Homo sapiens: one gene and its partners. The protein of the gene in region 1 interacts with the protein of each later gene in a pairwise test. Each region holds a gene or a part of one and is shown on either strand. Other genes may lie near its edges. The genes, in order: CLEC7A, OPRM1, SUSD3 and BNIP3.

The links.
Region 2: the proteins of CLEC7A (region 1) and OPRM1 interact in binary tests that used the Homo sapiens proteins (3 or more experiments, as listed by UniProt).
Region 3: the proteins of CLEC7A (region 1) and SUSD3 interact in binary tests that used the Homo sapiens proteins (3 or more experiments, as listed by UniProt).
Region 4: the proteins of CLEC7A (region 1) and BNIP3 interact in binary tests that used the Homo sapiens proteins (3 or more experiments, as listed by UniProt).

Annotation. Positions count from the first base shown.
Region 1 is NC_000012.12:10,127,195-10,134,984, forward strand, and holds the start of CLEC7A (C-type lectin domain family 7 member A), read right to left. Parts: upstream 3,006-7,790; 5' UTR 2,889-3,005; coding exon 2,786-2,888; intron 652-2,785; coding exon 553-651; intron 249-552; coding exon of another isoform or gene 217-248; exon of another isoform or gene 129-216; intron 1-128.
Region 2 is NC_000006.12:154,042,233-154,049,260, reverse strand, and holds part of OPRM1 (mu-type opioid receptor), read right to left. Parts: intron 1-7,028. UniProt on the Homo sapiens protein: Receptor for endogenous opioids such as beta-endorphin and endomorphin. Receptor for natural and synthetic opioids including morphine, heroin, DAMGO, fentanyl, etorphine, buprenorphin and methadone.
Region 3 is NC_000009.12:93,053,802-93,061,725, forward strand, and holds the start of SUSD3 (sushi domain-containing protein 3), read left to right. Parts: upstream 1-4,899; 5' UTR 4,900-4,941; coding exon 4,942-5,029; intron 5,030-7,924. UniProt on the Homo sapiens protein: May play a role in breast tumorigenesis by promoting estrogen-dependent cell proliferation, cell-cell interactions and migration.
Region 4 is NC_000010.11:131,967,157-131,971,924, reverse strand, and holds the end of BNIP3 (BCL2/adenovirus E1B 19 kDa protein-interacting protein 3), read left to right. Parts: intron 1-391; exon of another isoform or gene 392-954; coding exon 955-1,061; exon of another isoform or gene 1,062-1,137; coding exon 1,138-1,287; exon of another isoform or gene 1,288-2,270; coding exon of another isoform or gene 2,271-2,298; intron 2,299-3,355; coding exon 3,356-3,401; 3' UTR 3,402-4,241; downstream 4,242-4,768. UniProt on the Homo sapiens protein: Apoptosis-inducing protein that can overcome BCL2 suppression. May play a role in repartitioning calcium between the two major intracellular calcium stores in association with BCL2.

The DNA of each region.
Region 1 (7,790 bases):
AAAATATTAATCCATTACAAAATATCGACTTAAGACCAAGTGCCTCAGGAAATTTCTGGTGTATTCAAAGGTGTTTATATTAAAGATCGGAAATAATTTCCTTAAATAATGTGAATCATAAAAATAGCTTAATGTCCATTTAGTGAATTTATTTCATTAGGAAGACAGCACCATATTGTACTTTCTTCTTCAGCTCCGCTTGTTTTCTTCATTAATTTATCCTTTGAATTCCACAGCTTTGAAACCAGCTATGTAAGGGAGGTAGGAGAGCAATGTAGTTAAGAGTATGAGTTTTTTAGACAGATCACCCAAATTTCTAATCATGGTCCCACCACTAACTAGCTTATAACCCTGGAAAGGTAAAATAACCTCTCAGTCTCTCACACCCTTTATAAGTGAAATGGGCATTAACAGCACCAACCCAATACAGATAAAACCAGATTATATACAAATTAAAGTAGATTATGCATGTCAAGCCCTTAAAAGAGTGCCTGGCACATAATAATTGCTTACTAAATTGTCTGTTGTTAATCTCCTCCACCAAATACTCACCCATGGTACCCAGGACCACAGCTATCACCAGTATTACCAAGCATAGGATTCCCAAAATTACAGCAATGAGGCGCCAAGGAGGAGATGCAGCACACGATCCTGAGGAGCCAGAGGGGGCAGAAATGGAATAAAGAAAGAGAATGACGGATGGTGGGGCAGTTTAATTCTACAGTTCATCAAAAATCTGGCCTTGCACGGTGGCTCACACCTGTAATCCCAGAAGGGAGACTGAGGTAGGAGGATTGCTTGAGGCCAGAAGCTCAAGACCAGCCTGGGCAACACAGGGAGACCCTGTCCCTACCAAAAAAAAAAAAGAAAAACAAAGAAAGAAAAAAAATTTAATTAGCTGGGCATTGTGGTGAGCTCCCGTAGTCCCAGCTACTCTGGAGGCTGTGGCAGGAGGATCACTTGAGCCTAGGAATTCCAGAGCAGCATAGGCAAAAAAGTGATACCCTGTTAAAACACACACACACACACACACACACACACACACACACACACCACCAACAACAACAACAAAAAATACTGGCAAATTTTTAAGTGAATTATTAATCACTGCCTAGGTTACCTGGTCACCTAGGATTTGCTGTGCTTCTCCACCAGTAAGGATACCTTCTTCTTCAATTGCTGGAATTGTAATTTCGGCACATTGGCTTGATAACTGTATGCTCCTAATTTCAGTTCCACATTGACATCTACAGGTCTTGACATTAGTAGGATCCCTGAAATCCCACTGATTCTTAGAGGAAATAGCTTAATGTTGGGGAGATAGCACTGATTACTAAGGGTAATTTTCCCTTTTCATATGTTTGTTGCATGACCCTGGGCAAATTACTCCCTTTGTTGTTTTTTATTCCTCTTTGTGAAACTGGGGTAATAATATCTCAAAGGATTATTGCGGGAATTAAACGAGCTAACACATATAAAAGCACCTTGTTTAGAGACTGCTAGCACATGATAGGTGTGTTGTTGCAGGATACCGTTTGCCTACACATATGCATAAACATGCGCATGTCTCCCTACCTCTTGCCTCATCCACTTTTTCCACGCTTCCTCAATAGGTTGCCCAAGAAAAGAATTACATCAGTGCTGAGAGGAAAATATTTGTGCAGTGTGAATAACCAGAAAGCAGAAGAAAGCAAACTCTGGTGTCAAAACCGACAAATGATCTCTCTCTCTCAAAGATAATAGGGAACTAATTTTGTATGAACATTGCCATAACCAGAATGTATTTCTGCTTTCCACTGTGACTAAGCTGTCAGGACATTTCATAGAATTGTCACATAGGAGAATCGTAGAGTAGGCTAAATCACCCATTCTATGAATACAGAGATCCTCCAATGCCCTTCTTTCTATTTCATTTCATTTACACTTTGTTTAAGACTCATGTCCTGCTGGTGGGATGTTTTTATCTACCATATGTTCATATATTTTCCATCACTGGTATACCAATAATTGTTTTTTGTTTAAAAACAATTTAAATTAATCTCTTACCACAAAAAAAAAATGTTGTTCATATATATACTTCTTTAAGTTTCCTGGCCTCCATTCGATAATCTAGCCTTTCTATCAAACAAGCAACAAGTCACTCATACAGAAATCCTTTATCTTTGTGTATTATCCCACTTATTACCAATTCCTCACTGATGAAATGTCTATATCTATAGAAAAGAGAAATTCTATTTTCTGCCATCAGACATAATTAATTTAAACACTAATAATTGGTCACTGAATAATTTTCATGAAAAAAGGTTTAGGGTGCATTCAATTTATCTTCAGTGACATCTGAAGCCTTTAAAAGTATATCCATAAAAATATACACATCACGAGGCTCTCAAATTTTCTCCCCTTATATCTTTTTGTTTTGTTTTTATTTTTATTTTTTTTCAGAGATGGAGTCTTGCTCTGCCACCCAGGCTGGAGTGCATTGGCATGATCTTGGCTCACTGCAACCTCCACCTCCCAGGTTCAAGTGATTCTCCTGCCTCAGCCTCCCAAGTACCTGGAACTACAGGCGTGCACCACCATGCCCGGCTAATTTTTGTATTTTTAGTAGAGACAGAGTTTCACCACGTTAGCCAAGCTGGCCTCGAACTCCTGACCTCAGTCAATCCACCCGCCTCGGCCTCCCAAAGTGCTGGGATTACAGGTGTGAGCCACCATGCCTAGCCTCCCCTTATATCTTTTCAAACGGGAGAGCTAAAGGCACACATTAGAAAAAACATATATATACCTTTCTCTGAAACAACAGCTATCCTGGTATTGCTTTGAGAGTCGAAGTGTAATTGAGTATATCCATCTTCATCCAAATTTTCTAAATCAGGATGATATTCCATTGTTCTTGAGAGCCCCTGAATAGATATAGCATTTGGGAGCTCTTTTCTTTCTGCTCCTGAGATGACTGTCTGTGGACAAAAGAGAATCTCTGAGTCAAATCATGTGGGCTAGGTACTTACCGGAGTTTAACAAATTAAGCTTAAGTAGTTCAACCAGATATTCAAGAGCAGGAAATGAAACTATGCTGTGGTAATTTTCCATTTGTACCTTTAGATCCTGTTTCTGAGACTGCTGACTCAGGAAAACTAAAAGGCAGCATAGCAGATGAGTCTTTGTTTCAGACCAAATGTAAGAAAAATGCATACATTAATGTCTTATGCTGCCTTCATTACTCTCACAACTAAGTCTGACATTAATTAATTTAACCGATGCAAACTATTTCAGTTTTGGTGCTCCAAGTTTACCATAACTTTGTTCATGTATTTATTCATGTATTTTTTAAATTACATAAACAGGTACTGGATGCCCACCTTTTCAATTGGTAGGAGCTTACAATACAAGGAAAAATGATACCTATGAAGAAACTCATTGCTTAATAAAGGAAATATATAGATAGGTAAATGAGGGATGGCATGAGGAGATGCATTGTTGTAACAACAGACAGAGAAAACAAATCTCTTTGGGAATTATCAGATATTAACACAAAATAACATTTATTGAACAATTACTATGAGCTAAGTACCACATGTTGTACATATTTTCTTGTTCAATCTCACTTTTCCAAGTCTATATAGTAGGCATTATTATTTCTATTTTCAAATGAAAAAATGAGACAGAAAATTTAGCCTCTTTCTCAGGTTTAAGAAGCTAATTTTAAAAATTTAGAGCAAGGAATCAAATCAAAGCTGACTCTTGCTGCAAAACTCGTGGTCTTTTCTGTTACGCTACACTGCCTCTTTCATCATTCCATACACTTATATTGCAAGGAACAGCTTATGGAAGGTGTTGGGACTGAAATATTATGTTAGATGTTTGATTTTTTTTCCCTCTCTTCCAGTTTCCATAGTAATGATCAAATCAAAGAAATATAGAAAACACCTAACATTGCTGGAAACTGAAGAGGTGTTCAACTCATTTATCCGACCTTGAAGCCAGTAGAGTGCAGGAGACATCTGAGTGTTGTCAAGGATCAACAAATCTGGATACTAGTTAATGTGGTGAGGACAGGTTTTATTCAGTAATACTATTGCAACAGGAACCAGTGCAGCATTAACTGAACTCAACTTCCCCAAAAGTAAAGCTGATGACATTTTAAAGTGGAGTTTGCTAAGGAAAAGATACTGAGTGGTGTTAAGGAAAGTTAATGTGACTAGACTCTCTGGATTTGTTAATTGGCCCTTATCCAGAGGACAGAGAAACTTTGCCTATCTATATGACAGAAGGACATGGTGATAGTTGAAGTGAAGCACCCAGCTAAGTTGGTCCTTATGCTGCATCTGAAAGAAAGAGCAAGATTTATCTCCCTGAATGTTTGCATTTCAAAGAAACAGCTCCCAAGTCCTTGAAGAAACAGTTCTGTGTGGTAGATTTGCTTCTCAAAGGGCAGAGAAAGAATTTAACTGTAAGATTTATTTTTCTTTTCTTTCTTTTTTTTTTTTTAGACGAAATTTCGCTCTTGTTGCCCAGGCTGGTGTGCAAATGGCACGATCTCGGCTCACCACAACCTCCGCCTCCCGGGTTCAAGCGATTCTCCTGCCTCAGCCTCCTGAGTAAGCTGGGATTACAGGCATGTGCCACCACGCCAGGCTAATTTTGTATTTTTAGTAGAGACAGCATTTCTCCATGTTGGTCAGGCTGGTCTTGAACCCCTGACCTCTGGTGATCCGCCTGCCTCGGCCTCCCAAAGTGCTGGGATTACAGGCGTGAGCCACTGCACCTGGCCTAACTGTAAGATTTCTAAAGTAACTGCTCTAAAAGGAATTCAGGAGCCTATCTGTTACCAAGTTTTTTGTTGTTGTTGTTGTTTTGAGACAGAGTCTCGCTCTGTTGCCCACGCTGGAGTGCAGTGGCGCGATTTCGGCTCACTGCAAGCTCTGCCTCCTGGGTTCACGCCATTCTCCTGCCTCAGCCTCCCAAGTAGCTGGGACTACAGGCGCCCGCCACCATGCCTGGCTAATTTTTTGTATTTTTAGTAGAGACAGGGTTTCATCGTGTTAACCAGAATGGTCTCGATCTCCTGACCTCGTGATCCGCCCGCCTCGGCCTCCCAAGGTGCTGGGATTACACGCATGAGCCACCACACCTGGCCTGTTAACAAGTTTTAACTGGAACAAAAAGTAAATTCTCCTAGCAGCATTGGGCTTCCTCAGGCTGGCCTTTTAAGTAGTGCTGAATCATCCTATGGACCTTGCCTTAGGCTACTAGAAGGCGTGCTAGAGTTTGCCAAGTCTCTAGTGCAGAGATTTGGGAGGAGTTGTTATATGATGAGGGCTCTGCAGTTCTGACAGTCTAACACCTATCAAAATGGAAGAGAGCTCAAGAGAGTACATAAATGAGCTTCCCGCCTTACTTAAGCTGCCACAAAAGTTTTACTAAGTTTTTGTAGACATGTTGCAAAGTGGTAATGTGGATCTTAATCTCAACATTCATCAGTGTTTCAGTCCTATAATGCAGTGCTTGGAAAGCAGCGTATGAGGTTCAGGACATGCAACCCCAAAATATGGATTCTTGGCATTTGAGAAAACAGCAGAATCAGGAAATTCACTCTCACACCTTTCCCCGTCTTTCTGCCCTGAAGCAGATCATAAGACCCTTATTTTAGAAGTATTGTTTCCTAGAGGAAAGAAACTTCCTTATCTTTGAAGATACAGAGATGCCAAGAAGAATCTGAACAAATTAGTCTTGCTAAGCTCCCTCCAGTTTATTAGCATTAGATCATACCCTCCTTGTCCAACGTAGGGGAGAAAAAGTAGTATCTTTTCCTTGCCCATCACCAGGTTCGTGACTGAGACCCCTATAACAAAAGACAGATTAACAAAACAAAAGCATGTAAATGTTATACGACAAGAGAGCCTTCTGAAATGAAGACGCAGGGAAAACTGAGTATTTCTACGGACAGTTATGCAGAAGTATGACTGGAGAACAAAAGGGTATAATCTAATGGTAATAAGCTGAGTAGAACTTAACAAGGCCTGTTTGTTCAGGTAACTTCTATTAAATAAATTTGGATGCTATTCTCTTGTTGATCTATGTTTTATTGTAGATGCCGTGAACCTAGCAATGAGTGAGGAAAAGGAATCTTTCACCCCTACAAAGGGATACCATGGAATTTCTCAAACAGTGAATACATTGGCTCCAGGAAAAAGGGTCGACCTCTTAAATAGAAATAGAGAACTAGAGAACAATAATGAGGGGAGTACCTTGCAGTCAGTAATAAGAAGCTGTCTTTACTATCAAATCAGACCTCCAGTGGGAGAGTTTTTCCCTATAGTGACTTTGACTGTCACCCTGTGTTTAATCACAATCCTATGAAAACAGTTAACTCTCTAAGTGGTCAAAGAAATTTTTCAATAAACATAAACTTTAGTCTAATTCTCATTATTCTCCTTTTTTGTCTCTTTGTCTAAAATAAAGCAATTAAACATTAATTATGCAAATCATTGACAAACTAGAAAAACAATACCCTTCGTATTTCAAGACAGTGGGAGAGATAGGCTGGGTATTCAGAGAAAAATACCCCTCATTAAATGTTAATGCAAGAAACAGGTGGAAGGCCGAGCATGGTGGCTCAGGCCTGTAATTCCTACACTTTGGGAGGCTGAGGCAGGTGGATCACCTGAGGTCAGCAGTTTGAGATCAGTCTGGCAAACATGATGGAACCCCATCTCTACTAAAAATATAAAAAATTAGCTGGGTGGGGTGGCAGGTGCCTTTAATCCCAGCTATTTAGGAGGCTGAGACAGGAGAATCACTTGAACCCAGGAGGTGGAAGTTGTAGTGAGCCAAGATCGTGCCACTGCACCCCAACCTGGGCAACAACAGTGAAACTCCATCTAAAAAAAAAAAAAAAAAAAAAGGAAAGAAACAGGTGGAAACAAACCAACCTAACAAAAGAAAAGACAAAAAACAAACCAGTTATCTAACTTACATTTTCAGTGAAGTTTGTTGAAAACTTTCATCTATAAAACAAGTGGGTCATCCAAGAAAAATGAGCAATCTGGCCGGGTGCAATGGCTCATGCCTGTAATCCCAGCACTTTGGGAGGCAGAGACAGGCAGATCACCTGAGGTCAGGAGTTCGAGACCAGCCTGACAAACATGGAGAAACCTCGTCTCTACTAAAAATACAAAATTAGCCAGGCGTGGAGGCGCATGCCTGTAATCTCAGCCACTTGGGAGGCTGAGGCAGGAGAATTGCTTGAACCCAGGAGGCAGAGGCTTCAGTGAGCCAAGAGTAAGCCAAGATCGTGCCACTGCACTCCAGCCTGGGCAACAAGAGCAAAAACTCTGTCAAAAAAAAAAAAAAAGAAAAGAAAGAAAGAGAAAAAAGAAAAATGAGCAATCTGAGAAGAGTTCTTAGAAGTGGAAAACACATTTTATAAACTAAAATTGTAATTAATGAAACCCAGAGGTAGATTGAATATTACATCAATAAAATAGCTGAAAGAACCGAATTCATAATAGCTGAGTCTCAGGAATGGAAAACAAAACATTGTATGTTCTCACTTATAAGTGAGAGCTAAGCTATGAAAATACAAAGACATAGGAATGATACAATGGATTTTGGGGACTTGGAGGGAAGGGCGGGAGGTGGGTGAGAGATAAAAGATTACACATTGGGTACAGTGTACACTGCTCAGGTGATGGGTGCAACAAAAATATAAGAAATCACCACTAAAAAACTTATCCATGTAACCAAACACCACCTGCTCCCCAAAACCTGTTAAAATAAAAAATAAAAGA
Region 2 (7,028 bases), on another chromosome or scaffold:
TAAAATGGTCTCAAACATAGTGTGGAAGTTCTGCTTAGTGTCCCTAAGCCAAGAAGACTGTGATGTGGCTTATGAGGAAAGTACTTGTGTTACAGAAGCTTTGTTCAGGCATGATTTATAGTGCTGTTAACCATGAGTTCAACGTTAGTGAATCAGCTATATATTAAATAAAGCGTCTTTAAACAGAAACACACATAAAACAAGGTTACGAATGCATTAGCTGATGAAAATTTTATAATCAGAGGCTCACAGGAACCTGCCCTATATATCCCCTAGAAGCAAAGCTTCAGTACTCACGAATTCTGTAGTCATAATGACTTTATGGACCATAACTATCATGAATAATGGGAATTGACTATATTAACTTTTTATGTTTTTACTTCTTCAAATTTTACTTTCTGAGTTTTTATTATAAGAGTAACCATATATTCCCTTTTTAAAGTTTGTAAACTCAGGAATATATGCATATATAGACATGTATGTGTTTGTATTTGAATTTATGATTTGCTAATATGTATCTATGGTACAGATCACTTTTCATGACTCAAGTGATAAAAGCTAAATATGCATGAACAAAGTGAATTGAGAAAATTATTTAAATTAGATTTTATACTTGAATAATTTGAGGTACATCTGAATTGCTAATAGCTTAGAATTGTACAGTATTTTGAAGATATTCAGTTCTGTTGGTCAACTTTGAATGTTGGATTTCTCACCTAAACACAAAGAGATAGATATAGTTCAAGTCTTTAAGTTTTATCAAGTGACATTTTATAAGGCCATGAGAAAATGCATAATTTTTTTTTAACAATGGTAGCATGTATTTTGGGTTATATTGCAGGGAAATTGGTTGTAGGAGTACTTTGGAGAGGCTGTAAGAAAGGATGGATTTAAGTTGATACTTGAAGAACAAGAAACATTTTGATAGGAAAAGAATGAGAGATACGTTACAGGAAAACAGAGAGAAAGAAAAATAAAGGAAACAGTATAGAAGAGATAAACATGAAGCATATTGGAAGATAGTGAAGGAATCAGGTTGGCCTAATTTACGTAAACGTTAATTTAAATCACACTAATGGTTTTCAGTGAATATGAGTGGTTAATATTTGAATCACTTAGGACACCTACTGTAAACTGAATGTGTTCCCCTCAAATTCACATGTTGAAAACCTATTCCCCAGTGTGATGGTATTTGGAGGTGGGGCCTTTGGGAGGTGATTAGGTCATGAGAGCAGAGCCATTATGAACACTATTAATGCCCTTATGAAAGAGGCCCTAGAGAGCTTCCTTGCCTCTTTGCCTTGTGGAGAAATGGGGAGAAGTTAGTTGTCTCTGCAAGAAGGTCCTCAGCAAATGCAGAATCTGCTGGTGCTTTCATCATGAACTCCTCAAGCCTCCAGCACTGTAAGAGTAAATTTCTGTAGTTTGTAAGCCACCCAGGCTATGGTACTTTGTTATAGCAGCCTGAACACACGAAGACACCTACTTACATACAGTGCATAAGCTAACATATTATTTAAAACAAACAAAAAACAAACAAACAAAAATTGTACTTAACAACATTTTTGCCTGGACAGACACATATCCAGAACAGAATGATCTCTCTCTCATTTAAACCCATCACACACTTCATCTTATGGGAAAGCCCTATCCATTGGTTTACGAAAGTTCACTTGATTAGATTTGGTGGAACCTCTTTGCATCAGATTTGGAATACAACATCCAGGATAGGACTAATACCTAAAGGCAAATATTAAAACCATCTCCTAAAAATTAAACAGAGAATGAGAGACAGAGAGAGAGAGAGAGAGAGAGAGAGAGAATTTTGCCCACGCTCCACCTTTGCCAGTCACGCTTTTAGGTTATGCGTTCCTAACCCTTAAGGAGGCAGCACATACTCTGACTCACTGTTTTTCATTCCTTGTCTTTCCCCATCTTGCACCCAGGCCCTCAGGTACACAAAACAGCAGGACCTTTTGCTTGGGCCTCCCAGTGCAGTAAGAAGATGACTTTTCCCTCTCCTTCCTGCATTTCTGCTCAAACATGTGATGCTCACCTGGTGGCTTCTGTGGGGTGGGGGTGGGGGGAATGAAACATGATGGGGTTGCACCTTTTCCCACTTAACCACTTGCCTGTACTCTCGAAGCATATGAATAAAGGCTTGACTGTAACTTTCTGTTTCCCTTATTGTCCTAATCATAAACACCACACCTGGCAGTTCAGAGCACACTCACTCTTTCTCCCTTTGACAGAACCTATTTGAGCTTATATAGAATCCAAAGGGCTGTGATGGAATGGCAACCACGATTGTTTAGTTTTGTGGATGATTCCTCTTTTCCTCCAGATTGTATTGCTGGGAAAAACATGCTCTTAATAGTCATTGAAGTTGCCATAGGACATTTTAGTACTAGAAAGCGTTTAAGATTTTTTTAGTCCAATTCGCACCTTTTTACAGATAAGGAGAGTGAGGCGCAGAGTGCCTTGAAGTCGAGCCACAACTGACACTTGGGGCCCTGAGCCAGGGCAAGGTTTCTCTTCCTTGCTGTTCTTCCTTTCTAAATTTGTATCTGAGAAATTGATGGGGAAAGAAAAAAAGTTACCTGAGGCAAGAAAGGATGGGTAAAGAAAGGAGTTGCTTGGTAAGCTCAGTATATGATGCTTGTTGTATATGACGTTTCCTGCATTTGATGCTTCAGCTCACTTTTGAAGACTGAAATTTTCTTGAGCTCAATTAATCACAAGATACTCTTAACGTTACTATATAACATGAAATTAATGGAAAAGGGAGTGGCAGGATTTTTTGTTTGTTTGTTTTCTTATACCCTCAGATAATTTGCCAGAAGGCACAGGAGGCTTTATTTCCTTTACATGGCACACACAATTCTGCTCCTATTATCCTGAGCTCAAGAAGAAGTAAACTGAACACTGGACATGACTGGTGCCCACTCTCTCTCCATTCAGCCAAACCTACCCAAAAAAGCCTTTCCTAAATCCCAAGGCAGGAACAAAAATGGAAGGAAAAGCTTAGCTTCTGAACTCTCTTGGTAGTTCTAACTGGTGCTGCCTATCAGAATTTTTCTTACGAGTTTTTGATAGTTAAGAGAAAACCTTTATTGATAGGTCTGTAAGAGCTCTATTTATTAAACAGATTTTACTGTGCTAACGTATAGTCACCAATTATAAAATAACAGGAAGGATATTCAGCAGAGTGTGAGATACGACCTTGTGTGAAGGTGAACCATTTTGAAAAGTGGTTGCTTGGCAAGGAGTGGGAAACTAGAAGAGTAAACCAGGGAAGAGGAAAACGAGGCATGTTTTTGAGACGGTCACAATGTGGGCGGGGCCTTCTGATGTGCCTTGTAGTTGGCACCTCAGAATTGTACACCTCAGGAGAGAGGGGAGCAAGGGCAGCATTTTTCCACAGGCTTCCATTTCCTGGTCAAGGGAACTTTCCTGAACTTCCAAATAGTGCCTTTGTGAGTGCCAGGCTGATTCCTATGGAGGGCAATTACTCCAGTAGAGAAGCCCTAGGGCAGAAAGTAAGTGATTTAGATGCAGCCAAGGTGAAGTGTTACTCAGTTATGTCTGGAAACTGACTGCCATATCAACGGCTGAGGTAGAAGGCGAGGTGAAGGACATGAGGTGGGCACGAGAAGGATATGAAACAACGTGAAAGCCATTGCTTTCAAATTTTGCCTGGTGGAGCCCTAGAAATTCTATGGTGGTCCCTTGGGGACAGCACTGGTGGGTGGCATGGGGGTGCAAGGTGAGCAGTGCTCTTGGTCTCAACATGTGGTTACATCTGGACAGTTGTTCTGTGATCTGTTTTATATATTGGGTCCCAAGTTCTTGAAATAAGTGTCTACATCTAAAAACAAGTTTGAAGACTGCTGTCACAGATAATTATTTCAGTCAGATAAACATTAAACTTAGTGAGGACTAAAGACTTGGAATTCTTGTATTTTAAAATGACATGCACCATTTAGTCTTGGTATTTACCCCTAGTACTTTTTTTTTTAATTTATTTTTTTTGTTTGAGTCGGAGTCCCACTGTGTTGCACAGGCTGGAGTGCAGTGGTGCGATCTCGGCTCGCTGCAGCCTTTGCCTCTGGGTACAAGAAATTCTTGTGCCTCAGCCTCCCCAGTAGTTGGGATTACAAGCATGCGCCACCCAGTCTGGCTAATTTTTTTTATTTTTAGTAGACACAGCATTTCACCATGTTGCCCAGACTGGTCTCAAACTCCTGACCTCAGGTGATCCACCTGCCTCAGCCTCCCAAAGCGCTGGCATTGTAAGTAAGAGCTACAGTGCCTGACCACCACTAGTACATTTTTAAATCTCATATAGTTGTATGTTATTTCTCAAAATGAGCTTATTTTTTCTTGCATCTGACCTTAAAATATCTGTTTCAACTACTGCCTTAAACGGAATCCTAGGAGAAATAATATTTTCAACTTTTATATGTAAGAGATCCTATTAGATGTTCAAAATCTCAAAGTAAATATTGTCAGCATTTATTATTTGAATACCTACAGACACCAATTAATTATTTGTATTTTCTTCTTAGCAGTAGAGAAATTATGCTTTATTTAAATTTATTAACCGATTTATTTTTTTTGCAGCAGTAGCTGAGGTTTTTTTCTGAGTATTATACCTAAATATTAATTAAAACAATTAGCTTAGAAAAATGCTTGCAAATAAATTTTTACAAATAATTTTTAACACATTTAAAAAAAAATAAGATCAGTTAAAAGTACTCAGAAGAGTTAATGGCCCGAATGTTTGTTTGTTTTCTTTTATGTTTGTTGGTTTTATTTGACATCTATTTTCTAGCATTGGCCTACTGGAACTATAACAACTTGGAGTAATTAGGGAAATTATGTGTTTAAGCTTAAACATATGATATGGTACCAATTATAAAAAGTTATGAGAACATACAAAAACATTTACTATGTATGTGTGTTTCCATATGTTTACTATATATATATGTGTTTCCATATGTAGTAAATGTTTAAAAACATGCATGTGAATAACTCACCACTAAATTTATGATAGTGGTAGTCTCAGTGACAGGAGGGTATTAGGAGCAGAGAAGAGACTTCAACTGTTTCAGTCTGTCTATCTCTCTCTCTCTCTCTCTATCTATCTATCCATCCATCCTTTAAGAGAAGAATTGTTCTGTAATTATATATTTTTTATCTTTGGAGATGTTTCATAAAATATCAGATAGGTCATTCTTTCAAGAAAGAAAAGAGAGAGAGAAGAATATAGGAAACTCGTTGATTGGTAATGTCATGCAAATGACAAAGACACAGCTTACAACCAAGGAAAGGAAAAGCAATTTAGTGTGTTTAGAAGACACAGAAGAAGAGTTGTTCTCCTCTGAATTAGTTTCTATATGGAAAATAGCACTTAAAGTTCAAATTGTAATAGGTACCAGGAGCTCTCCCTTACTAAGTGAAAGGCATGCAATTAAGTTAGTATTTTTTAATGTAAGCCATTAAATTGAGAACTGAATTTTATTTAGTGTTTTTCACTTTAAATCCATCCTCTAATTAGGATATTTTGTGGGTTTTAGAAAAGTGAATTTTATTAATATTTGAGTAAATAAACTATTATCTTTTTATTTTATGAAAATTACTAATGATCATATTTAGTGACATGCATTCAAATTGATTCAAATATGTATGTGTGTGTGTGAATTTATATATATATATATATACACACACACACATATATATCCTTATATTAGATAAAACATTATTGTTCACTAATTTGTAGCTACCTGAATCTAGATTAAGTTTAAAAGCTTATACTTCTGTTTCAATCAAGTATAACTGATCATTTTTAAATTTAAACCTGAATCAAATATTTAGTATATAGAACAAGTATAAGCTCACAGGACTTTTTCTAAAATCAGAAATACTTGTTAGGAAGGAGAAATGACAATAACATCTTGCACGTATTTAAATGCTCTTCTCTGATAATTAGTTATATTGAGAATTTATCTAACCACATTAAGAAATAATCTTAAAAATGAAGGTACTATTACTTGGCACTCTTCATTGGAAATTTACTGGAAGGATGGTTTACGCAGCCCACAGAAATCTCAAAGTTTCTAGCCCTCCACTTTTCAACAGTGTCTGTACATACCATGTTCATAGCTACATGAACAAACCTTGGAAAAAGAATTTCCCAACATAAACACATCTGGGATTATATTAGTTTTTGCAGTTATGGGTAATTCTATAGTCTGGTTCAGTTATTAAATATTTTCCCAAAAGTGAAACATCTCTGGTGGCTGTTACTTTTTGTTTTGATTTTTTTTCTTTACAGTTCTTGACAATGAAATACTATCATCCCATTTTAAGTGATTGCTACTGTTTGTAGTATTTTCATCACATTTTCTAAAATCTTTGTGATAATTTTCATAAGGTTATTCTCCAAGCATTATTTTTCTTTAAAACCAAAAAAGCTTTCAGGTGATGGTTACTGATAACATTTTTATCACTTAACATCTGGACTTAAAATCTTTAGAACATATTACAGTTTCTCCTTTCCTCCCTTGTATTCCTTAGAGTAGCCCTGTTTAAGAATCTCATTTAAGTTATACTACTTAATAATGTTGTTGATGAGGGGATGATGATGATGGTGTTACAAACAGAACCAAAGAGTTAATCACAGCGTCCATGTTAGCAGTTATTTTTGTTGTTGTTGTTGCCATAGTCATCTGAGCCTCATGATTCACTCAATGTACTAAAACATTTTAATAAATATTACCTTAATATAATCAGAAAACTGCAACTACTTGATCATTCAATAGCATTTGTTGAATTTTAAATAGGGAAGGAAGTGAACATTTCTCCTCAATACTTAATAGATGCAACATTATATCCAGCATTTTAGCAAGGACAATACATCCCTGAACTGATCATTTTGTAGTTTAAACACCGCAGCCTGGAGACAGTCAGTTAAATGTTCTCAGCTAAATAGACATACTTGCTTCAGTCCCCAGATGCTTTCCCTG
Region 3 (7,924 bases), on another chromosome or scaffold:
TGGTGGCCAGGTAAAGGCCTTGGTGTGCAGGATGAGCATGGGGGGAGCAGCCCCTGGCCAGAGTTTGTCCCTCCTAGGCCCAGCTGTATCCCAGCTTCTAAACTGGCCTGGCATGCAGTAGGTGTTTGGTAGTAGCTGTTCCATGAATCTGTCATTCCTTCTGCCCTCTGGGCGCCTTGCTTTGTGTCTCTGCATCACCATTTCTGAACCTGAGGGCGGCAGCTCGATGTCATGTCACCCAGGCTGACTGATCTGCTTGTGCAGGCTGCAGCCAGGTAGGACAGTCTGGTGGTCACAGCTCAGGCCCCAGCAGGGGAGTACCCCCGGGGAGGGGCCTTTGTCGCTCTGCACAGTGGGGACAGGGCTCTTGCCTTGCTTTAGGAGGATAAGTGGTGGGTGTTGAGGGCTCCAGATGGCCCAGCAGAAAACATTTTTGGGAAAATTGTTTTCTCTGCAAACATCTGGCCTGCTAGAGCTTCAAGGTCAGGTTACTTTTTTTTTTTCTTTTTTTGCTTTTAGTTTTTAAAAGGTAATACAGTTTTTAAAAAGAGAGGACACCCATGAGGCCACCAATGCTTCCCTGACTCTTACCTTTTGCAAAAGAACTTTCTGGACGTGGTCTATTGTGAGAGGTTTTCAGAACAAAAATCTCATTTTTCTATTGAGTAAAAACTAAAATCAAGAATAAAGCAAAACAGGCTGGGCGCAGTGGCTCACACTTGTAATCCCAGCACTTTGAGAGGCCAGGGAGGGTGCATCACCTGAGGTCAGGAGCTCAAGACCACTCTGACCAACATGGTGAAACCCTGTTTCTACTAAAAATACAAAAATTAACTGGGCGTGGTGGTGCATGCCTGTAATCCCAGCTACTTGGAAGTCTGAGGCAGGAGAATTGCATGTACCCAGGAGGTGGAGGTTGCAGTGAGCTGAACTCATGCCACTGCAATCCAGCCTGGGTGACAGAGCAAGACTTTGTCAAAAAAAAAAAAAAAAGGCAAAACAAACTGTTTTAGATTTCCACAATTATTATCTAATTTTAGAAAAACTCACCAAGCCAAGAACTCTGCCACCACCAGACTTCTGCATGGGTCCCCTCCCAGGCCACCATGGCCCATGGGTGCTGAGTCAGGCAAATCAAGGGTTGAGGAAGGCTTCCTGGGGGTGGCAACACCTCAGCTAAGGTCTGAGGAAAGAGGAAACTCCCAAGCCAGACCCTCACCTTCCTCTGGAAACCTCTGGCAGCGCACAAGACCCCCATGTTACAGAGTGGAACACTGAGCCCCAGGGCTGGCAGGCCTCCCCTGCCTCCCAGGTTCCATCCAACAAGTGTCCACTGACAGTGCACTGTGTGCTCCCAGTTGCAAATGGAGCTGGGAAGAGGCTGTGGCTTTGGTCAGTTCCTCAGGCTGTGCCTGACTCTGCTTCCTTCTCCCGGCCTGCCTCACCAGCAGCCAGCAGCCCATCCGTTCCTCCTAGCCTCCTCCCCTGCCTCCTCCAGCAGGGAAGCCCATATGTTTTGCGTTTTTTTTTTTTTTTTTTTTTTTTTTGAGACACAGTTTCCCTTTGTCACCCAGGCTGGAGTGCAGTGGTGCAATCTCAGATCACTGCAACCTCCGCCTCCTAGGTTCAAGCAATTCTCGTGCCTCGGCCTCCCAAGTAGCTGGGATTACAGGTGTGTCTGACCTCAAGTGATCCTCTCGGCCATATCCGGCCACATGTCCATAGCTCCACACCTGGCCACATGTCCTCTTCATTTCAGAGACGTGACACAGGCTGAGCAGGCCTTAAGGACAGGCAGCACGAAATGGCTCTGACAGGGAGTGCCATCAGGGAGGGCTCCATGGAGAAGGAGGGTGAGGAAGGCAAGGAGACACACCCAAGCAGGCAGAGCCTAAGCACTGCTCCCAGTTTGTGCCTAGACTTGGAGAGTCTGGGAAACCAGGCAACTAGGACAGCTGAGCGGGTGGGCCAAGCTCAAAAGCTGACGGGCCTTCACAGTCCAGCTTAGAGGCCACCACTCCATCCTGAGCACATCACAGTCTCTCACTTGCCTTGAGAGGGTGGCAGGACAATGTCCACCCCTCAGATGAGAACACGAAGACTCAGTGCAAGGGTGCCCACCCCTGCCCCAGGGATCAGGGAAGCCTGTCAGAGAGCCATGGTTCTCACCATGGAAGGGGGCACCCCAGGCGGTTGTCCCTAGTGGGCCAGTGCCGTTCTTTTCACATGCCTCAGTTTCGCCCACGTGCATGGCTAGAATAGCTGGGCTTTCTAGGAGCAAACCATTCCAAGGGCCTGGGAAAAGGTGGACAAGATGGCCCTGATCAGTGTTCAAATAGGTGACAGGCCCACCTCCAGAACCAGCCTCAGATCCCTCCCATAGCTCCTGAAGATGGCCTTTTGGCAGCAAATGGGTGTTCTGAGCCACAGCAAGGCATACAGTTCCCTGTGGAAACGACATGACAGAGGTCCTTAGGCCACCTCCAGGTCCCCTAACAGTACAAATGGAGGCCCAGCGCCACAAGCCTGAATGTCCACAACCCAACCAAGCGACAGACTGCTCAGAAAAACATGCTCTTTCCTCCTTGATCCCACCTGTCAGGGGCTGAACTGTGTCCCCCAAAATCTATATGTTTAAGTCCTAACCCTCAGTACCTCCAAATATGACCTTATTTGGAGACAAGGTCTTTACAGACTCTTCTTTTTTTTTTTTTTTTTCTTGAGATGGTGTCTTGCTCTGTTGCCCAGGCTGGAGTGCAGTGGCACAATCTCAGCTCACCACAACCTCCGCCTCCCGGGTTCAAGTGATTCTCCTGCCTCAGCTTCCCAAGTAACTGGGACTACAGGCACGCGCCACCATGCCCAGCTAATTTTTGTATTTTTAGTAGAGACAGGGTTTCACCATGTTGGCCAGGCTGGTCGCAAACTCCTGACCTTATGATCCACCTGCCTCTGCCTCCCAATGTGCTGGGATTACAGGCGTGAGCCACTGAGCCTGGCCGGTCTTTACAGACTCTTTATAGGGTCTTAAGTTAAGATGAGGACATTACGGTGGGCTCTAATCTAATATGACTGGTGTCCTTAGAAGAGAGATTTGAACACAGAGAGACACAGGGAGAGCACCATGTGTAGACAGGAGTTAAGTTGCCACCGGCCAAGGAACTGCCAGAAGCTGGATGATACAAGGAAGGCTGTTCTCCTGGAGTTTTTGGAGGGACTGCAGGCCTGCCGACACCCTGATCTCAGACTTCTGGCCTCCTGAACCATAAGACAATAAATTTCTGTTGTTCTCAGGCACCCAGTCTGGGGTACTATGTTACACAGCTCTAGGAAACACACTTCCTAAATGGCCAGGTGTTTAGCATTTGAAGGCTCCTGAAGGCCTGGGTCACAGCGTGGTGGCTTAGGGAGCTGCAGGCAGCCTGGTGTTTTCCATCCCCACCTAGCTCCACCCAGCTATTGGAGGGCTGCCCCAGACCTCCCTCCCAGCCCTGTCCATGCACCTACAGGCAGTGGCCTTCTGCCTGGTGGTGCATGGTGGGCAAAACCAGGGAAGGGACCACACAGGCCTGAGAGGTGGGCTAGGGGCCACTTGGCAAGACATTCTGGGGTCCCAGAGTGTGGTCTGGAGTGGGCACTGCTGATGGCCCTGCCCTTCCCGACATGGCAGAAAGAATACACATGCTTGATTTTGAATAAAGGAGATTGAAGTAAGCCATCGTGTGTGACCCACAAGTCCAAGTGGGAAGAACATATCAGGGGTGACGCCAACCCTGATGGCGAAAGGGGGAGGGCCCCTCACGTTTCACACTGAACCTCAGCTTTGGAGGGCTCGGAAAGCAGAGACGGGGAGGGGCTGCCCTGCTGGAACCCTGCTTCATGGTCCACCTGAACATCCACACTCTTCACGGTCACCTGCCAGGCACTCTAGAGCCAGCCTGGCCCACCTGGGCCACCTTCTGCGCTCCTGGAGGCATGCCTAAGCCAGCCGCACTGGGCTTCTGCTGCCACACATTGCCAAACCAGGGCCTTTGCACCTGCTGTTCCCTCTGCCAGGATTGCCTTTGCCAGCTCCACAGGAATAGGCATGGCTCAGGTGGTCTCCCACAAGCAGCCCAAGATCCAGGATGTCTGAGGCCTGACACCACACCCAACCCTTTGGTGGCTGCCTGGGCAGGGGGCTAAGCCTGGGTTGGGTGGGGTCAGAGGGAGAGAAAGAGCCCGGATCACAGCTCTGGGCCTGCTGCAAGTGGAGCTGGGTGGGAAGGGGAAGCCAGGAGAAGGGAGGCCTCCAGGTGTGGTGGGCCCTGCAGACAGACCCCAGGGCTTTCCATCCTGTTTCCCCCAGCCGGGGGCCCCTCAGTGAGAACCGAAGACAACAAGGGCACCCAGACCTCAGTGTGCCTCAGACGGCCTGGCCCAGTGAGAGACAGGGAAAGAAGGCTGGGTCCACACAGGACTCTGGGGGTGAGTGGGTTACGGGAGGGGCGGGCCGGGGAGGCGTTTTGCTGTTTGCCCTTTGGTACCGGCCGAATCCGGCACCCTGAGAAGGCAAAATCCTGCTCAAAAAATAAAAACACAGAAGCACATGGAAAAACCACACTAGGAGTGAAGGTGAGAACAGGAAGGGATGGGGGAAGGGTGTTGGGCAGAGGTAGCCACGCGTGCAACGCCCCGGAGTAGCAACACTTTCCGCTCAGCCGGCTGCCTTGGCCCGCTGGGTATTTGGTCTCCCCAAGGGCCCCCGCCCACAGCCCCCGGCCGGACCTCGGCCCCAGTCCAACGTGTGGGCGTGGTCTGTAAGTTGCATGGAACCGCCCCTGGGCGGGCGTGGAGGGCGGGGCCTCCCCGCCCCTCACCCAGGCCCAGGCCCAGGCCCCGCCCCCACAAGCCGGGCTCACTCCCCTGGCAGACCCCGCCAAGCGCCTCGGAGCGCGCAGGATGCGCTGGGCGGCCGCCACCCTCCGTGGCAAGGCGAGGCCCCGGGGGCGGGCCGGGGTCACCACGCCTGCCCCAGGGAACCGCACAGGTGAGGGCTGGGGCCGAGTGGCCGCGTGCGGGGCTCTGCGCCCATTTCACAGACGGGAAAGCCGAGGGGAGGGGGTCGCGGGGCCGCACAGCCGTGGGTGGGGGCCACAGCAACGATCTGCCCCGAGGACGAACCTCCTCGACCCTCCGCCGGCCCAGCAGGCGCCCTAGCGGAGCCGAAGCCTGGCAGCGAGCAGTTCGAAACCAGGCGGCTGCACGCAGCAGCCCGCGCGCCCGTTCCCGAGTGGCCGCAGCGCCTTGGTCCCGGGCGTCTGCGGACAGCGCGGCCGGCCAAGCCTCTCCACGCCGCAGGCTCCGGGCCCCTCCGCGCCCCTCCCGGGGAAGTCGAAACCGGCCTCACCTGGCGGGCGGGTGGCGCGGGGGCGGGAGGGGGGAGCCGGGAGCCCTCTCTGCGCCTGAGGGAGGTGTCATCTTCACGATTCCTTGGTGACCAGCGCAGCTCCACTTTACAGATGGAGAAACTGAGCCTGCGAGAGGGGAGTGGCTGTCCGAGGTCACCCTGTAGCCAGGCTTGGGATCGCCTCGGCTGTCTCGGAGGAGGCTCAGAGGCCTTTGGAAGGAAGAGAAGCTGCTTTTTATTTTACTTTTAAGTGTTTGAATTCAAGAATGTGCTTAAAGAGTTGTCTGCTCCCGTGCCCAAGGCTCCGGGGTTCGAATGCTGGCCTTGCTCCTTGAATGATTCTAAAGTCTAACCCTTTTAGAAACGGAACCAAACCGGAACTCTGGGTCTCAGATATCCCAAAAGCTTACTTCCGCGGCCACTGCCCACGAACGTTAGGCCTGAGGGTTCTGGGCGTCTCAGGCGTTGCGGGGCTAAGGCTCTGCGCAGGAGGAAGCTGAGGCCCGGAGTGGGGTGGGCTGGACCAGGTCACACTGTCAGCCTGCAGCCCCAGGGAACTGGCAGGAAGGTGGCAGGAGAATGGCTTCCTCTCACAGTTGGGGAAACTGCGGCTCAGGGAGCTAATTCACCGAGCAGAGGTCCGCAGCTCAGCAAAGTGGGCGCTGAGACTTGTTCCTGGCGCTGGTGGATTTGGTTTATTTAGTTTGACTCTGGCAGCCTAATGTCCAGAGTCCCTAATTTGGTGTTGGGGTGATGAGCACTTTTGCTCCTGTGTTTGAGCAAGGCCTGCCCAGGGCCTGGTACTACCTGAGGAGCCCCTTCTACTGGCACAACAGCCTGGGGGCGTGGGTGCCAGTGCCCTTTGGATAGCCTTGACTTGCCCAAGGTCAGCCCAAGGCCAGGGAGTATCTGGAGGCTCTGGCATATTTGCATACAAAAGGCTGTTTGCCTTGGAATTTGTGCTGGGAATGGAGCTTAGTCTGGCACCCTGTGCTCTTGTTCATCCTGCCTGGCCCTGGCTCTGCCTCTGACCACCATGACCACTTCCCAGGCACTGGCCCCCTTGTTGGAGTTTTGGGTTAGGATCCCCCCTGTGACCTGGGGTGAGTCGCTGTACCTCTGTGCCTCAGTTTCCCCATGTGCCCCAGTTTCCCCACTGTATACCTGCCCCCAAGCTTGTGGACAGGCCCAGTGGAGCCCAGGGAGGGTACTTGTTCTGGTGCAGGGATGATGCCATCATCTGGACTCCATCACTCCCCTGCCATGTGACCTCAGTTTCTTGCTCTGTGAAATGTGCTGTGAAGTTAGAGGCTGGGGGGTTGGGAGCCTTTGGAGAGGATTTGACACTAAAACACCACTGACCAGGAGTGGTGGCTCATGCCTCTAATCCCACACTTTGGGAGGCTGAGGTGGGCGGATTGCTTGAGTCCAGGAGCTCGAAACCAACCTGGGTAACATAGCAAGACCCCGTATCTACAAAAAATGCAAAAAAAAAATTAGCTGAGCATGGTGGCATGCGCCTGTAGTCCCAGCTATTCGGGAGGCTGAAAGGTGGAAGGATTGCTTTCGTCCAGAGTTCGAGGCTACAGTGAGCTGTGATCACCTCACTGCACTCCACCCTGGGCAACAGAGCGAGATTCTGTCTCAAAACAAAACAAAAACCAAAAACATAGCACGGGGATGTGTGTTTTTCCCACCATCTTTAAAATGGGGCCATTACCACTGGTTTTCCTAGAGTAGATATGAAGAGCACAGTAGTGTGGACAGACTGATCTTCCTGAGAGGCAGGAAGTGGTCTTCCCTCATCTCCCATGAGCGCCCTGGGAGAAGGGCAGGGCGCGGGGGAGACTAGCTCAGAGTAGGAGTTTATCATGTTTGTTGTATGACTGGCCCCTGGCCCTGCTCCCAGGTCAGCCCCAGCACTCCCTGATCTGGGAGATTGTCCAGGAAAGCAGGGTTCCAGTGGCTGTAGGTAACCCCCCTGGCATCCGTGGAAGGGCCTTGGAGGAAGGGCCTGGAGAGGGGGTAGCAGGAGGCATGCTCTGCTGGTGCCTTCTTGGCTTCACCCCTGAACTCCTGCCCCAGAACTGGACTGTGTCCATTTTACAGAGGAGAAACTGAGACCCCGTGAATGCATGTGTAAATCAAAGCAAGGCAGACACACCCTGTGATGCCTGGCTATGGCCTCCTGCCACCCATTGGCATCGAAAGAGCTGCTGGTAGAAGGCATAGGTTCCCGGACCCTCGGTTTTCCACCAGGGATGTGGGAGTACATGTTCCTCATTTGGAATTAGCCCAGCTCTTTTATGGAGGATTGTGTGCTTTCCACATCCTGAGGCCACCCTGCTGCTCAGCCTGGAGATGGAAGGCAGAAGTGGCTCTGAAGCCTGTGCTCACCCTCCATGTGGAGATGGGCTCAGAGAGGGCAAGTGACTTACCTGAAGACACACAGCCAGGGCTGTGGGACACCCACATGTAGTGTTGGGGCCAGGCCTGTCCCCACTGCCAGGGTCTTGGGGGTCCTGTTCTCAAAGC
Region 4 (4,768 bases), on another chromosome or scaffold:
CGTGCTAGCGCTTCCCTCAAGGCTTTCTTCACCAAGGAAACAAGGAGTCCCTGTTACCCAGGCTTTCTCAGGGACATCCCCTGGCCCCACTCCGAGGGGCAGCATGATTTCGGGAGCCCCAGGAGCCCTGGCTGTGGGTGTGTGGGTGCATCCAGGGCGTGCGGCCTGCTCCTGGGCACTTGGGGCTGTACCCAGCTTGGGTGTACCCAGATGTTTGGTGGGTTTGGGGAGCTATATTCTTGAGTATTTTCAATTTTATTTCTTTTTTTTTGAGACAGGGTCTTGCCGTTTTCACTGTTTTACACAAAACTTCCCCTAGTTTTAAAAGGAATTAGATGTTCAGGTACAGAATTTTGAAAATGCAAAAAAGTAGAGAAAAACACTTAGACTCTCAGATTTAAAATCCTCTTTAATGTTTCGTGCTGTTATATAATTCTGAGGATTTGGCCGCAGCTGTGGTTATGTGGACATTTCTGCCTTTTCCCTCCTGCTTATCCCGGAAGCATCTTGTAAACCTGCTCACTATACAGTGTCCCTTCCTTCGTCATGTCCCTGTTTTGAGCCGTTTTCGGCTGTTTTCATTTTCTTTTCTTATAACCAGTGCTGCCGTCACCATCTTTGCCCTCATGTCACGTGACTTCCCTAGGACAGTGTTTGCCGCTGTCAGTACCCCCAGAATCTCACAGTGAACCAAATGTATTTACGCCCTGAGTGGGGCTCCCCCAGAGGTGATCTGTCCCTGGAGGCGGCGAGCGTGCTGTGAGCCGGGAGTGCGGCGCGGCCCGGGGAAGGCCCCCAGCCCCAGGACTCCCCTTGGACCACGGTCCGAGGCACTGACATGTGCCTCTGGGCTCTTGAATTGAGCCTGCGGATCTGAAGCTCGGGTGGGAGCTGGGTGCTTTCCCGTGTCACGTGTGGTACACTGATCTGCCTTTAACATTGACTTTATCTTAGTCTGAGGAAGATGATATTGAAAGAAGGAAAGAAGTTGAAAGCATCTTGAAGAAAAACTCAGATTGGATATGGGATTGGTCAAGTCGGCCGGAAAATATTCCCCCCAAGTGAGTGTGTTCTCAGTGTCACGGGGGCACCCCTTGACAGAGGACACATCAGCTGACACGTTTCTTCCCGCCTCAGGGAGTTCCTCTTTAAACACCCGAAGCGCACGGCCACCCTCAGCATGAGGAACACGAGCGTCATGAAGAAAGGGGGCATATTCTCTGCAGAATTTCTGAAAGTTTTCCTTCCATCTCTGCTGCTCTCTCATTTGCTGGCCATCGGATTGGGGTAGGTGATGTGACTGTGTGACTCCTGTCATGGCATGTCGTGGGGCGATTCTGGGTTGCAGTGATTTATTCGTAACCTGTTTCCTGAAGTCCAGATCATCAGTTACAGCTTGGTGCATTTTCACAAACACCCACGTAGTCACTGTTCAGGTCCAGAAACCACCAGCCTGCAGCCCCCAAAGGCCCCAGCACAGGCGCCCTGTGGTGCTGCTGTCTGGCCTGACGAGTCTGCCTGTTGCTCACTGAATATAAACGGAGTCAAAGCAGGGCTTCTTAGGTCTGACCTCTTTGTCCTGTGTGTAGGTGAAAGCAGTCTCATTTCTGTGTAGTACTGTGGCGGGAATGCACCCAGCTCTGCTGTAGGTGGAGGGTCTCAGTTACCTGCTGTACTTCCTCCAGACAGGACTGTTGTTCTAGTAACTCTCAGCAATGAAGGAACCAATGCAGTCTCCGACTTTACTGGCTTGAGTTTCGCTCTTGTTGCCCAGGCTGAGTGCAGGGGCGTGATCTCGGCTCACTGCAGCCTCTGCCTCCTGGGTTCAAGCGACTCTCCTGCCTCAGCCTCCTGGGTAGCTGGGATTACAGGTGCCCACCACCAGGCCTGGCTAATTTTTGTATTTTTAATAGAGACGGGGCTTCGCCACGTTGCCCAGGCTGATCTCGAACTCAAGGGATGGCTCACCTCGGCCTCCAAAGTGCTGGGATTACAGGCGTGAGCCACCGCGCCTGGCCTTTCCTGGCTGCTTATACTCACTCACCCTGCAGAAAACACAGAGACCAGGCAGGCGCCGCTGTGGGTTCTGAAGAGCGTTCGCCGCAGCGGTGGTGAAGAGCCAGAGCGGGAAGCCAAAACGGCTCCTCCTCGGGCTGGTCCCAGCCTCTCAGCGGGGAGGAGGGCTCTAGTCCTGGCGTGCAGACAGTGTTCTGTGGCTGCCGTGTGTTGGACAGACTGGAAAGACCGGAATGCCACTGGGGGCAGGTGGGTTAGGTAGGTTGGCCAGAGGGCTCACATCTGGGGTTGAAGGAAACGGGATAAAAGCCACTGAGTTTCCTGGGCCGGGACCTGAGCGCTGCCCGTGTCTCCACCTCGCCCTCCCGTGTGCGTGGCTTTCTCCTAGCTCTTGGGCACATTCTCACGTCCCCCCCATAACCCGTCACCTTCATTTCTGCTGGTGCTTTTGGGAGTCAGACCTACAGACTGCATCAGCATCACCAGGCAGTTTGCTTTCTGGAGCCTTTTCCAGAACTGTCAAGCAGACTCTGGGGGCAAGGCCTCGGGATCCTCATTTTAAATACAAGGTTTAAGCCCTTCGTTTCAGGATGGATTTCTGCAGCCACTACTTCCCAGCTACTGTCCTTCGTCCTGCCCGGGTTTTCAGAGCCTGATGCTGCCACTGGCGACCCACACCCCCTCAGCTGCTTTTCAGAACCACACGATAAAATCTGCCCCGAAAGCTGCTGCAGCACTGTCTGCGCTCACAGTGCCCACCACACCACCGCCCACAGGCCAGGCCAGCCAGGCTTCCGATTCTGCCCTTTCCTGGAGACCCATCCTCCTCCCTCCGGGAGTGATGCCCGCTGGTCAGCTGGAGCGAGCCTCTCTATTGCCGAAAAGCCTTTTCTGACACTCCTGCATCTTTAGTTTGGGACATCTCTCCCACTACCAAACTTAAACCACATGAGGGCAGGGGCTTCATTTTTAAGCAGTTGGCTTTGGTGAGGCTGGTGGTGATGAACTAGCAACACCATCTTGCCCTGGTAGGTGACTTCCCCCAGCACTGAGTTGGAACAAAGCAGAAGCTTTCTGTGTGGAAACAGCATTCGGTTTGGTGATCCTTCTATGTAAGAATACGATCTGATGTTTTCTAAGTTAATTAATACAAAATACATATTGATAAAACACTAGATAAAAGATCACAGATAGATTCATTACAAAATTTTTATAATGGGTATAAAATCACCAGTCCCCTTGCATAAGCTCTAACCACAGTGAGCTACCCTGTTTCAGCTGTAACACAGTCTCCTGTGAATCACAAGATACATTAACTACTGATAATTTTTCTGTGAAGGATCTATATTGGAAGGCGTCTGACAACCTCCACCAGCACCTTTTGATGAAGAACTGGAGTCTGACTTGGTTCGTTAGTGGATTACTTCTGAGCTTGCAACATAGCTCACTGAAGAGCTGTTAGATCCTGGGGTGGCCACGTCACTTGTGTTTATTTGTTCTGTAAATGCTGCGTTCCTAATTTAGTAAAATAAAAGAATAGACACTAAAATCATGTTGATCTATAATTACACCTATGGGATCAATAAGCATGTCAGACTGATTAATGTCTACTGTGAAAATTTGGTAGTAAATTTTCATTTGATATTAGATATAAATATCTGAATATAAATAATTTTAATATACTAGTCATGATGTGTGTTGTATTTTAAAAATTATCTGCAACCTTAATTCAGCTGAAGTACTTTATATTTCAAAAGAATGAATAACATTGATAATAAAATCGCTACTTTAAGGGGTTTGTCCAAAATAAATATTGTGGCCTTATATATCACACTATTGTAGAAAGTATTATTTAATTTAAATGGATGCAGGTTGTCTACTAAAGAAAGATTATATATAACTATGCTAATTGTTCATAATCAACAGAAACCAAGATAGAGCTACAAACTCAGCTGTACAGTTCGTACACTAAACTCTTCTTGCTTTTGCATTATAAGGAATTAAGTCTCCGATTATTAGGTGATCACCCTGGATGATCAGTTTTCTGCTGAAGGCACCTACTCAGTATCTTTTCCTCTTTATCACTCTGCATTGGTGAATTTAATCCTCTCCTTTGTGTTCAACTTTTGTGTGCTTTTAAAATCAGCTTTATTCTAAGCAAATCTGTGTCTACTTTAAAAAACTGGAAATGGAAAAAAAAATAAATCTTTGCCAAATCCTTCAGATTACTGTATTTACATATGGTTTAAAATCAGACGTCATGATAGCTTCTTAATGAAACCAGGACTGGTCCCTATTTTGACATTATCTTTCCTACAGCAAACTTTTTAGAAAGGCTGCCTGCCGCCTTGATGTTTCACCTTTCCACGCTTAATTCGGGTGTTAAATCTAACGTTTTCATTTGTAAAAATCTTTGTTGATGCTACCTTGGAAGCAGTCATCTCTCAGTCTTACATTTGGAGAATGTGGATGGCATGACATCAGAATTCCTTTATATAATTTAACTTCAGAATAGTCTGAGATCATCGAAGCACGATGGTCAAGGGAATTCCGTTTTTGTTTTAGAGCAAATATGTTTGCTGTTTGTCTTTCATCACAAACATCAGTGGAGTTTCAGCACCTTACAGAGCTCAGTGAACCCCCTGGTCACCATCAAAGTTAGCACACAACAAAGCCAACCACGTGTCCCCCTCACAGATGACAATGGCTGAACTCTGAGTGAAACCACCTGTATGGCCGGGCACAGTGGCTC